2 separate regions of the Homo sapiens genome follow, and region 2 is linked to region 1. The links come from fine-mapping of genetic effects on gene expression. A gene starts in region 1. The other region holds a variant in brackets. All regions are shown on one strand. Distances are from middle to middle.

Evidence for each region. PIP is the estimated chance that this variant, and not a neighbour inherited with it, causes the effect. A credible set is the group of variants that fine-mapping cannot tell apart.
Region 2: its variant is the best candidate, but not a certain one, in a credible set for the expression of TOLLIP in whole blood (INTERVAL, PIP 0.53).

What each region holds. Positions count from the first base shown.
Region 1 is chr11:1,307,020-1,312,383 of GRCh38, reverse strand. It overlaps TOLLIP (toll interacting protein), which reads left to right and starts at 2,752. Exons shown (of 6, transcript NM_019009.4): 1 at 2,752-2,918. The coding sequence starts at 2,886. TOLLIP-DT (TOLLIP divergent transcript) reads right to left here and starts at 2,676. Exons shown (of 1, transcript NR_029409.1): 1 at 1,677-2,676. RefSeq lists silencers at 932-1,061, 2,587-3,296 and an enhancer at 1,595-2,356.
Region 2 is chr11:1,080,337-1,085,693 of GRCh38, reverse strand. It overlaps MUC2 (mucin 2, oligomeric mucus/gel-forming), which reads right to left. Exons shown (of 58, transcript NM_002457.5): 7 at 3,907-4,032; 8 at 3,292-3,409; 9 at 3,075-3,213; 10 at 2,706-2,816; 11 at 2,548-2,617; 12 at 2,132-2,269; 13 at 1,877-2,041; 14 at 1,309-1,403; 15 at 976-1,102; 16 at 371-626; 17 at 88-140. Among named protein-coding and RNA genes, the nearest start is that of MUC2, 8.1 kb to the right of the region's middle. The variant G/A (reference allele first, on the strand shown) is at 2,600.

The sequences.
Region 1 (5,364 bases):
GCTTTCTGTTATCAGCAGTGTGAATATGACCTGACTAAGTGTTTTGTTTATTTGTTTGGAATCCATTGCTTCCTAAATATTTTGTTTGGTGCCTACCATTAACTTGGAGAATTATTGGCCATTATTTCTTCAGATTTTCTGCCTCATTCTCCTTTTTTCTTCTGGAATTCTAATAATGCTTAAGTCAGATCACGTGGCTGTAAGCTTAGTGGCTTAAAACAACACACACTTATCTCAGAGTTTTTGTGGGGTAGGAGTTCAGGCACAGCTTAGCTGGCTTATTCTTGGGTCTTACGAGGCTATAATTAAGTTGTCAGCTGGGTTGCATTCTCATCTGGAGGCTTGACTGGGGAAGGATCAAAGCCCCCTCAGATTCCTGGCAGAATTTGTTTCCTTGAAGTTGTAGGAATTATGGCACCTCGCCTCTTCAAAGCCAGCAGCTGAGAGACCCTTGAGAATAAGTCTGAGAGCAAGATGGAGTCTTTTATAACATCAGGTAATCATGGGAGGGACATCCCATCACCACTGCCATATTCTGTTGTTTAAAAGCAAGCCACAGGCTCTGTCCACCCTCAAGACAAGAGGATTATTCAAGGATGTGAACACCAGGAGGCAGGGATCATATGTCTACCTTACAACCTGTCCACCCCATAGGGGAATAATATTAAGGCAAGAGCTGAATCTAGTGTTTAGCGGAGGTCCTGGTGGGAGATACAGATTTTAGGATCATCAGCATATGGATGGCATTTAAAGGAATGGAACTGGATGAGCTCACTGAGGATGTAGATAGAAAAGATGTGCAAGGACTGAGCCCTGAGGTAAGGCACTCCGATGTTAAGGAGTCAAAGTGTTACCAGTGTGCCCTGGCATCTTGTAATCTCCCAGGATAGAAATAAAGAGAGATCAGCAGACATAGCAGCGAGGAGAAAGAGAAATCTTTATTTAGCTTGTGCACAAGGAAGTCAGCACCATGAAAGGAAAACGGTGGGGGGCCCCGCCGCCAGGGGGTGGCACGTGGGTTAGTTTCACAGGGAAGGGATTGGTCCAGGCATGGATAGGAGGGGTTTGTCTAGTGCTTCTCAGTAGCTTTGCATGCTTCTTCATGCATTGCATGCAACATTCACATTTTAAATCTCTACCCCTAGGTGTGATTTTTAGCGTGAAAATGAGGAAGGGGTAACAATAGTTGAAGTATAAGTCTAACTGCACATGTGGGGCCCGGGGAAGTCCCTAGGCCCCCAAAGCAGGAACTTGTGGTTAATAGCTTCTTGGGTCTTGTGCTGTGGATTGGCTGGATGTTAAGCTACAACTTGAGGAAGGGGCTTTCGTTCTTTTTCTCTACACCCCATCAAAACAGGCAAGCGGCCAGGCTGCCGGTTTTAAAAGGAGAGACTGGTAACCGAGACCCAAAGATGTGGTCTTTGGGATAAGAGGAAAGTGAGAGCACATGGTGTCCTGGATGGGGAGTGAAGAAAGCATGTGTAGCAAGAATGACTATCGATTTTGCTGTAGTTCCCGGAGGACGAGGACTGAGAACTGACCACTAACAATATAGAGATCACTGACAAAGAGTTTTTAGTGGAGTGGTTGTGTTACCGGAAAAGGGTCCTGATCCAGACCCCAAAAGAGGATTCGTGGATCTTGTGGAAGAAAGAATTCCAGGCCAGTCCACAGAGTAAAGTGAAAGCAAGTTTATTAAGGCAGTGAAGGAATAAAAGAATGGCTACTCCATAGAGCAGGGTGTTCCCAAAAGCACGAGGAGGAAGGCGTCCACCTGGGTACGCTTGTTTATATGTAAGATAAAAGCCAAAAAACATCACGGGGGAGACGTGCTGTACTACCTGGGCTCGTCAAAGGATTGCCAATCTTTGCATAACGCCTGTCCTCCGCAAGCATCTGTATCATTATCTTTAAAGCGAAACTTCAACTAAGAATGCTTCTTGTTCTTAAGATACCCGGACATCGGGACCTAAGTTCCGGGTCTGCTGCGTAAAAGTTTATTAACCTGTTCCCGTGACCGTAAACGCCCGACTCCTGGGGATGCAGCCAGCGGGGTTCAGCCTCAGTTTACCCAGCGCTGTTCGAGCTGGAGTCGCTCTGGTTGGAGCGCCTGACCGCGAGGGCCGAGGTCAGGCCGGACTGGGGTTCTCCGGAGCGAGCAGGAGAGGAGCGGGGCTCCTGCGGAGCGGCGCGGCGGGGAGGCCGAGGGCAGGGCGGGCTCGAGCTCGGGCTCTTCTGGCAGCGCCTCCATCCCCGTTCCGTTCACCCGGCAGCCGCCCCGTGGAGGAACCGCGCCCCATCTTTAGCCCTGTGAAACAGAAAGGCCCTTCCTCCGGCAGGCAGCTGAGGGAAAGATCGCCCTGCAGGGGATGTCGGGCCTGTCACTGCTTTGTTGCGGGCCACAGTTCCCTCCCTTCTCCGAGCGGGTCGCACGTCCGAAGGTCACCCCCGCCAGGTGGCTAGGCCCTGTCGCCACTCGACAGAGGACCGAGGAGGAACCAACCCACTGCCCAGACTGCAGCGCCGCCACGCTAGGGCCCGCGCCGACAACCGTCATGACTGGGCATGCGCAAACGGCCCCGCCGGGAGCCATTTCGCCGGGCTGCAGGGCTCGAGGAGAGAGCAGGTGCGCAGGCGCCGGGCGAGAGGCTGCGCCTGCCCTACCCTGGAGCGCGCGTGCGCGCGAGAGCCGGAAGGGGCGGTGCCTGGCGCGGCGCCTGCGCAGTGGGGCGGTGCCGGGGGCGGGGCGCGGCGGCTGTCAGCTGACTGTGGCGGCGGCGGCCTCGAGGTGACAACTGTCTCCGTCGCAGGCTCCGGCGGGGGCGCAGGAGGTCGCCCGGCGCGTCACTGTCGGGTCGGCGAGCCACGGGGGCCGCCGCAGCACCATGGCGACCACCGTCAGCACTCAGCGCGGGCCGGTGAGGCAGCCGGGCGAGGGTCGGGCGGGGGCGGTGACCTGCGGTTGCGGGCGGGGCCTTGGGTCAGGGCTACTGCTCAGCTGCGGCTGGCGGGCCGACTCCGCGGCTCTCCCGGGGCACGCGGGGCGCCTGGCCGGCCGGAGGGGAGCGGCGGCGTCCACACCTCGGGGCGGGGCGGGCCGGACGGACGCGCCCACGCTGCAGGAGGCTTGAGCTCACCGCCGTGCCGGGGCAGAGCTTTGGGGAGGCAGCCCCGGGGGAGGGGGCCTGCGCCCGTTGTGAGCCCCAGATGGAGGCGGGCCCCGTGCCCCATGGTGCCCCAGAGGGAGGCAGGCCCCGCTCCCCAATGGTCTCCAGATGGAGGAGGGCCCGGTGCCCAGATGGAGGCGGCCCCGAGCTCTGACTCCCGAATGGAGGAGGGCCCCGCACCCTAATGGTCCCCCAGGTGGAGGCGGGCCCTGAACCCTAATGGTCCCCTAGATGGATGCGGGCCCTGCTCCCTGATGGCCCCCCAGGTGGAGGCGGGTCCCGCACCCTGATGGCACCCTAGATGGAGGCGGGCCCCGCACCCTGATGGCCCCCCCAGGTGGAGGCGGGTCCCGCACCCTGATGGCCCCCCAGGTGGAGGCGGGCCTGCACTCTAGTTGGTCCCATAGATGATGGCTGTTTCCTCTTTCTCATTTACACAGAGTGAGGGCAGTGGTGACCACTTCTTGGGCCCAATTGTGTCCCCGGTTAGTGGCCACCGTGCAAAACCTCAGTTTCTTCATTTGCAAATGAGAGGATAGGCGCCAGGAACTTCAGAGAACCTTTCCTGCTCTGAATTCTCTCCTGAGAGTTGCCTGGCAGTTTCTTCTATAGCATTAATATTGCAGGAGAGCTGGTGTAGACTGACTCAGAGATGATGGGCTCCTGGCGTGAGTGGCCTCCTGGCTCACTGTTAGGGCCTTCTTGCATTGCTGTAAAGGAATACCGAGACTGGGTAATTTGTAAGAAAAGAGATTTAATTGGCTCCCGGTTCTGCAGGCTGTACAGGTAGCATGGTGCCGGCATCTGCTCCTGGGGAGGCCTCTGGAAGCTCCCAGTCATGGCGGAAGGCCAAGTGGGAGCTTACACGTCACATGGCGAAAGCAGCAAGAGAGTTGGGGGTGGGGAGGTGCCACACACTGTAATGACCAGATCTTGTGAGAACTCACTATCACCGGGACAGCACCAAGCCACGAGGGATCTGTCCCTGTGACCCACACACCCACCCTGCCAGGCCCCACCTCCAACATTGGGGATCATAATTCAGCGTGAGATTTGGCGGGGACACAGATTCAAACCGTGTCACTCACTGAGGCTGGGCTGGGGCAGGCTGTCGTGAGCGGTACAGTTTTTATCAACAGTGGCTCTGAACATGCCGTGGGTGGAAAAAGTCCTTTTTCACGATGCTCCAAGGTCCCTGCCCTCGCGCAGCCCAGTACTGGACGTGGTGGAGGGGTCACCAGGGCTCCCCACCCTTAACACTGTATCCACAAGTCCTGGTGTTTCTCCCGAGGAGATAATTCTTCAGGTAGAACATTTTTTCTGAGTTTAGAATGAAGCCCCAGGTTTTGGGCATAGCTGCTTTTTCTGAGGACTTTGAAGGAAACCTCCTGACACTTATGAGACTCAGGTGTGGAGCCTACGGGTCGGCAGAGGTCCTGGACGGCCTCTGATGGCAGCGTCTCTACCTCTTCATCTTTACTCCACCACAGTGAGTCCCCGCAAGTTGCCGTGGCAGCCAAGTGCTCCTTTCTGCCTAACAGGAGACTCAGAGCAACAAGGGAACCAGCACCCTGCTGTTGTGTCCTCCTGGAGAGCAGGGGGGCATGGTGGCCAGGCAGGATGGCCCCTTCCTTGCTGTGTGGTCTGGGAGACATCCTCTGCCTCCTGGGAACTTGTTCCTCATCTGGAACCCCACTGGGGTGTAGGACTGATTTTGAATGCATCAGGTGCTGAGCAGGCAGGGAGCAGTGGGAGGCAGGCCCTTCCTGTTCTGAGGGGCACCGGCGTGCAGCGCTGTTACACCCGCGATGAGGAAGTGGGAGCGGCAGGAGATGTTCTCACACGCAGGGCCTGTGCTGGCAAGTGCTGAGGTGTCGTTAGAATCTCCTCTTGCCCAGTGCCTCCTGGGCTGTTTCCATCATGTAGACGAGCAGGTATTTCAGGGGCACCCCCGTTGACCGGTAAACGCATAGTAACATGAGGTCTGGCTCGGAGCTGCCAGGGTCTCTTAAGAAGGTGTTGTCAGCGACGGGGGTCTCAGGTGTTGCTTGGAGTACATGTGACTTAATCAACCAGCGCTACCAACTGTGGCGTTCAGGATGGCCATGATGCAGGGGACAACCAGGTGGTTCCTGCCACTGGGGTCTTCCAGGGCAGCACGGTAGACATGGCAGCACATAAGGACAGCTGAGCTGTG
Region 2 (5,357 bases), 230 kb after region 1:
CAGGCCCGGGAGGGGTGGCCGGGGAGGGTGGCCAGGGCAGGCAGGGAGGGGTGGCTGGGGAGGGGTGGCCGGGGCAGTGCCACTTACTCTGGCCGATCAGCCGGATCTGCCTACAGTGCAGCCGCCCATCCCGGCACACACTGTGGAAAAGGCCAGGGATGAGCGGGGCCCATGCAGGACGGCCACAGACAGCCAGCAGCTTCCCCGCAGATGTGAGCCTGATGCCTCTCAGCGCCCCCCACCCCAGGCACCCCTCAGCCTTGGGTGTCTCAGCTTCCCCAGGTAGAGACTCCCAGGTCTCCGCTTGGGGCAGGTTCAGAAGGAGTTCCCCCGCCCCCACGCCACACCTGACCCCCGAGCAGGTACCCACCATCGTTCTTCCTGCCTGACGACCACGTCCCCCGCCTCCAGGTAGAGACCGCGGTGGTAACAGGAGCACTTGGCCAGGGGTACGCAGCGGCCCTTCTCGTCCAGGAAGGTGTGGTCAGGGCAGCCGCAGCCGTCCACAGGCGCAAAGCCCTCGAGACAGTGGCTGTCGGCCTCGGAGAGGGAGCGGCAGGTCTGCTGGCAGGTGGTCAGGTTGTACAGGAAGACCTGCGAGTTGGGGCAGGAGCCCACATCCTTGTCTGCAGAGGACCACGGGGTGGTGTGAGGGACGGGAAGAGCCAGACGCCCAGCTCCCATCCCCAGGGTGGCCAGGGGGCCAGGGAGTGCACACTCTGGGACCCACTCCCACACTCGGCCGCCACAGCTCCAGGCCCACCCCAGGTTCTGCCCCTGCTACGTGGCCGCCCCTTGCTATAGGAGTTGCTGGTTTCCTGCTACCACCGGCCGACGAAGCTGGAGCCTGGTCCGTGGCTGCAGGGGGCCAACCCCTCTCCCTGGACCACCCGTGCTCAGGGCCCCCAGCCCCGTCCCAGGAGCTCAAAGCCCGGACCCCATCCCCAGGATGCAGCCCACGGGGACGGCACTCACTGCAGACATGCTCCCGCCAGCCCCACAGCATGACGCCCTTGGCGGTGCAGGCGCGCGCGTAGGAGGACAGGGCGGCGCACAGGCAGTCCTCATTGTTCTGACAGTTACACGTGTCATATTTGCACCTCTGGGCGACAGAGCAAGGTGGACGGGCAGTGAGGCAGGGAGGCAGAGTGTGGCCTGGCGCTCACAGACGCAAGCTCACACGCACACACAGCAACCAGTGGGCCCAACCGGGTGCTCTGAGTCCACCTCACGGGTGGCATGGGGGGCTGGGGGTGCCCTGAGTCCACCTTGATGGCATGGGGGCCTGGGGGTGTGGGTCCCACCCACCTTGTAATACTCAGCAGGGTCCACAGCCGAGTGGCACCTGCCAAAGGGGGTCTCTGTCTTCTTCAGGAGGGAGCACCAGTGCTCGGCGTAGTTGGCTGGGGAGTGGGGGATCGGAACTTCAGCGGGGCCCGGGACCCCCGTGAGATCCCCTGGGCCCTGCTGCCTGGCTGCCTAGGCCCCAGATATGGTTCCCTCTGTGCACCGATGCCCAGGCCCCTTCCTCCCCGTGAGTCAAATTTCCAGGCAGCTCCTGGCTAGATAGAAACCCCTGCAGGGCACCCACCACCTCCCGTCTCTCACCCCCAAGGGCCCAGCATCCTGGACATGACGGGGCAGGTAGGGACCAGCCCAGGCCCTCTTCCAGGTCACCTGGCAGGCTGCCACCATGGCCGCCATAAACTAGCCACAGCAGGAAGCAGCAGGGGCCGGGCTGCCCCTGGAGGAGAGCCACCTCACTTCTGCCCCTCACCACCCATGCTTCCTGCTGGGAGCCCCGTCTGCCCTTCCAGGCCATGGGCCGGGTACCCTAGGCACGCTAGGTGGGGGCGCCCGTGTTGCCGAGCCTCACCGCTCTCGATGTTCAGGGAGCAGGGATCGTCCAACCAGTCCAGCTTGTCATGGCAGGTTGACTGTGCCTTCCAGGTGTTGGCAAAGCCGGCCCCCGTGGCCTCCACCAGCCCGCTGGCCGTCTTGAAGTCGTCACCTTCCAGGCCGTTGAAGTTCCCGCAGAGGCCTGAGGGGCCAGGACAGGGTTGGGAAGAGTCTGGGGCTAGCAGGCCCCCCTGTGGGCCTTTGTTGGGGCAACCCCGGTGGGGCCACTTACCCTGCACCTGCCCCTGGGAGGCCTGGTCCAGTGTCACAAAGAGTTGCATGACTGGGGCCAGCTGCACCTGCAGCCGGACGCCAATGGCCATGCTCACCATGATGTGGTAGGAAGACGGGCGGAAGACAGAGAAGCTCGCTGTGGGCAGGGGCACGATGAGGGACACGGTAAGGGGCATGGCGAGGGGCGGGGCTCCCGGGACCTGCCTGGCCCAGGTGAGCAGCGGGAGGGTGTCACCCTCCCACCACCCCCTCCAGCAGAGGACCCAGGACGGAGCCTGCTGGGTGCCGCAGGGACCCTCCCCCCGTGGAACCTTCCCACCCAGCCTCCTGGGTCCGAGGTGGCTGGACTGTCCGAATCACTGCAGGCCCAGTGGAGCTCGAAGGGCCCGGGCCCCTCCCTGGGGCGCAACTCACCGGTCACGTGGGGCAGGTTCACCTGCAGCTCGTTGAGCAGTACACTGCCATC[G/A]GACTTGAAGACCACCACCTGCAGGGAAGGCCGAGGTTGCTCAGGGCTGAGAAGGGCCCCCCTCGGGGGACCTGGGGCTCCAGAAGGAGGGGGCAGGACCACTCACATTCTTCTTCTTGTCAGCCAGCAGCACCACCGTCTTCAGGCAGGTCTGCTTGTCTGTGGAGCCACAGGGGGCCAGCTCGCCCAGGAGAGCGTAGGAATCGTTGTGGTCACCCTGTGATGGGGCAAGAGGCAGTGCAGCTGCTGAGGGCCGGGACGGGCAGCACCCTGCACCCTAGGACCCGGCAGTGGCTTAGAAAGGAAGGCCTGCTTCTTATTCTCCAGCCAGAGAGCAGAAGCATGGTCACCTGCCCCAGGACAGCCCACAGGCACCCTCTGCTTCAGGGACAGCCAGCCCACCCACCCCGGGACAGCCAAGGGCCTGGATGCCAGCCCCAGCTCTGCCCCATGCCCCAGACCCTGGGCAGCCTACCTTGGCCAGGACATAGTAGCAGTCCCCGTGGAAGGTGTACGTCTTCCCATCGAAGGTGGTGATGTGGGAGCCGCCTTCCAGGGCACAGGTGCCGGGGCAGGGCAGGTCTTTGCACACCCAGCGGCCAGCGTTACAGACACTGTTGGGCAGCGGGGCACAGGGTCAGGGCTCAGCCGCCCCAGCCTCTGCTGTGCCCAGCCCTGGCCCCGGGACTCACCACTGCTCGCAGTCATTGGTGATCTCCTGGCCCGGTGTGTACAGGTGTCCGTGCAGCCTGCAGTGGCACTGGCTCACAGGAACGCAGCCACTGTCCCCGATGTCGTCATATACGGTGCCTGGGACAGCCAGGGAGGCGATGTCACCCCGGCTGGCTCAGAAAGAGCCAGAATCCCCACCGAGGGGCTGCCAGCCAGGCCTCCCACCCGCAGGCACCACTGGTCCCCTGTGCTGACGCCTGCGGTCCCCACCTGGTCCCTGGGTTGGGGTCTGGCCATGGGGGTCCAGCCTCCAGGCCACCTTCCTGCCCCTGACAATCGAGCTGCTCCCAAAGGCCTCAGGCACCAGGCCAGGGGCCGGGCAGGAGGAGGTCTGTCCCCAGGGTGATAACCAGGAAGGCAGCCCCCTTCCCGGCCTCCCTGAAGCCACCCTTTGGGAAGGGCCTCACACCGAGGCCCCTTCTCCCCCGGTATCGGGTGGAGGGAGAGGCACTTCTGTGCCGCCGCTGCCCCCACCACCCAGCGGAGCCGTCCCCTCAGCGCAGGCGAGAACCCCAGGCCAGGGCTGCCTCTCATCTGGTGGGCAGTGCCAGGGCGGGGCCATCCTCCACACGCACCTTCTGGGCAGAAACAGCCGTCCATGCGGTGCTCCTCGCACAGGCTGCTCACCTCCAGGTGTGAGCAGGTGTCCATGCAGGGCGAGCCGCTCTCCAGGTACACCAGGTTCCCGGGGCAGGTCTTGGCTGGAACCGCAGAGGCCACGCAGTGAGGGTGAGGCTGGGGCACAGCAGCCGCTCCACCCCGAAGTGCACCGAGAAGGGCTCTCAGCCCACGGTGAGTGTCCCCCCAGCTCCCGGTGCCCGGCGCGGTGAGTGTCCCCCCAGCTCCCGGTGCCCGTGGTGAGTGTCCCCCCAGCTCCCGGTGCCCGTGGTGAGTGTCCCCCCAGCTCCCGGTGCCCGGCACGGTGAGTGTCCCCCCAGCTCCCGGTGCCCGTGGTGAGTGTCCCCCCAGCTCCCGGTGCCCGTGGTGAGTGTCCCCCCAGCTCCCGGTGCCCTCAGTGAGTGTCCCCCCAGCTCCCGGTGCCCGTCACGGTGAGTGTCCCCCCAGCTCCCGGTGCCCGTGGTGAGTGTCCCCCCAGCTCCCGGTGCCCGGCACAGTGAGTGTCCCCCCAGCTCTCGGTGCCCGTGGTGAGTGTCCCCCCAGCTCCCGGTGCCCTCAGTGAGTGTCCCCCCAGCTCCCGGTGCCCGGCACGGTGAGTGTCCCCCCAGCTCCCGGTGCCCGTGGTGAGTGTCCCCCCAGCTCCCGGTGCCCGTCACGGTGAGTGTCCCCCCAGCTCCCGGTGCCCGTGGTGAGTGTCCCCCCAGCTCCCGGTGCCCGGCACAGTGAGTGTCCCCCCAGCTCTCGGTGCCCGTGGTGAGTGTCCCCCCAGCTCCCGGTGCCCTCAGTGAGTGTCCCCCCAGCTCCCGGTGCCCGGCACGGTGAGTGTCCCCCCAGCTCCCGGTGCCCGTGGTGAGTGTCCCCCCAGCTCCCGGTGCCCGTGGTGAGTGTCCCCCCAGCTCCCGGTGCCCGTGGTGAGTGTCCCCCCAGCTCCCGGTGCCCGTCACGGTGAGTGTCCCCCCAGCTCCCGGTGCCCGTGGTGAGTGTCCCCCCAGCTCCCAGTGCCCGTGGTGAGTGTCCCCCCAGCTCCCAGTGCCCGCGGTGAGTGTCCCCCCAGCTCCCGGTGCCCGTGGTGAGTGTCCCCCCAGCTCCCGGTGCCCGTGGTGAGTGTCCCCCCAGCTCCCGGTGCCCGTGGTGAGTGTCCCCCCAGCTCCCGGTGCCCGTCACGGTGAGTGTCCCCCCAGCTCCCGGTGCCCGTGGTGAGTGTCCCCCCAGCTCCCAGTGCCCGTGGTGAGTGTCCCCCCAGCTCCCAGTGCCCGTGGTGAGTGTCCCCCCAGCTCCCGGTGCCCGGCGCGGTGAGTGTCCCCCCAGCTCCCGGTGCCCGTGGTGAGTGTCCCCCCAGCTCCCGGTGCCCTCAGTGAGTGTCCCCCCAGCTCCCGGTGCCCGTCACGGTGAGTGTCCCCCCAGCTCC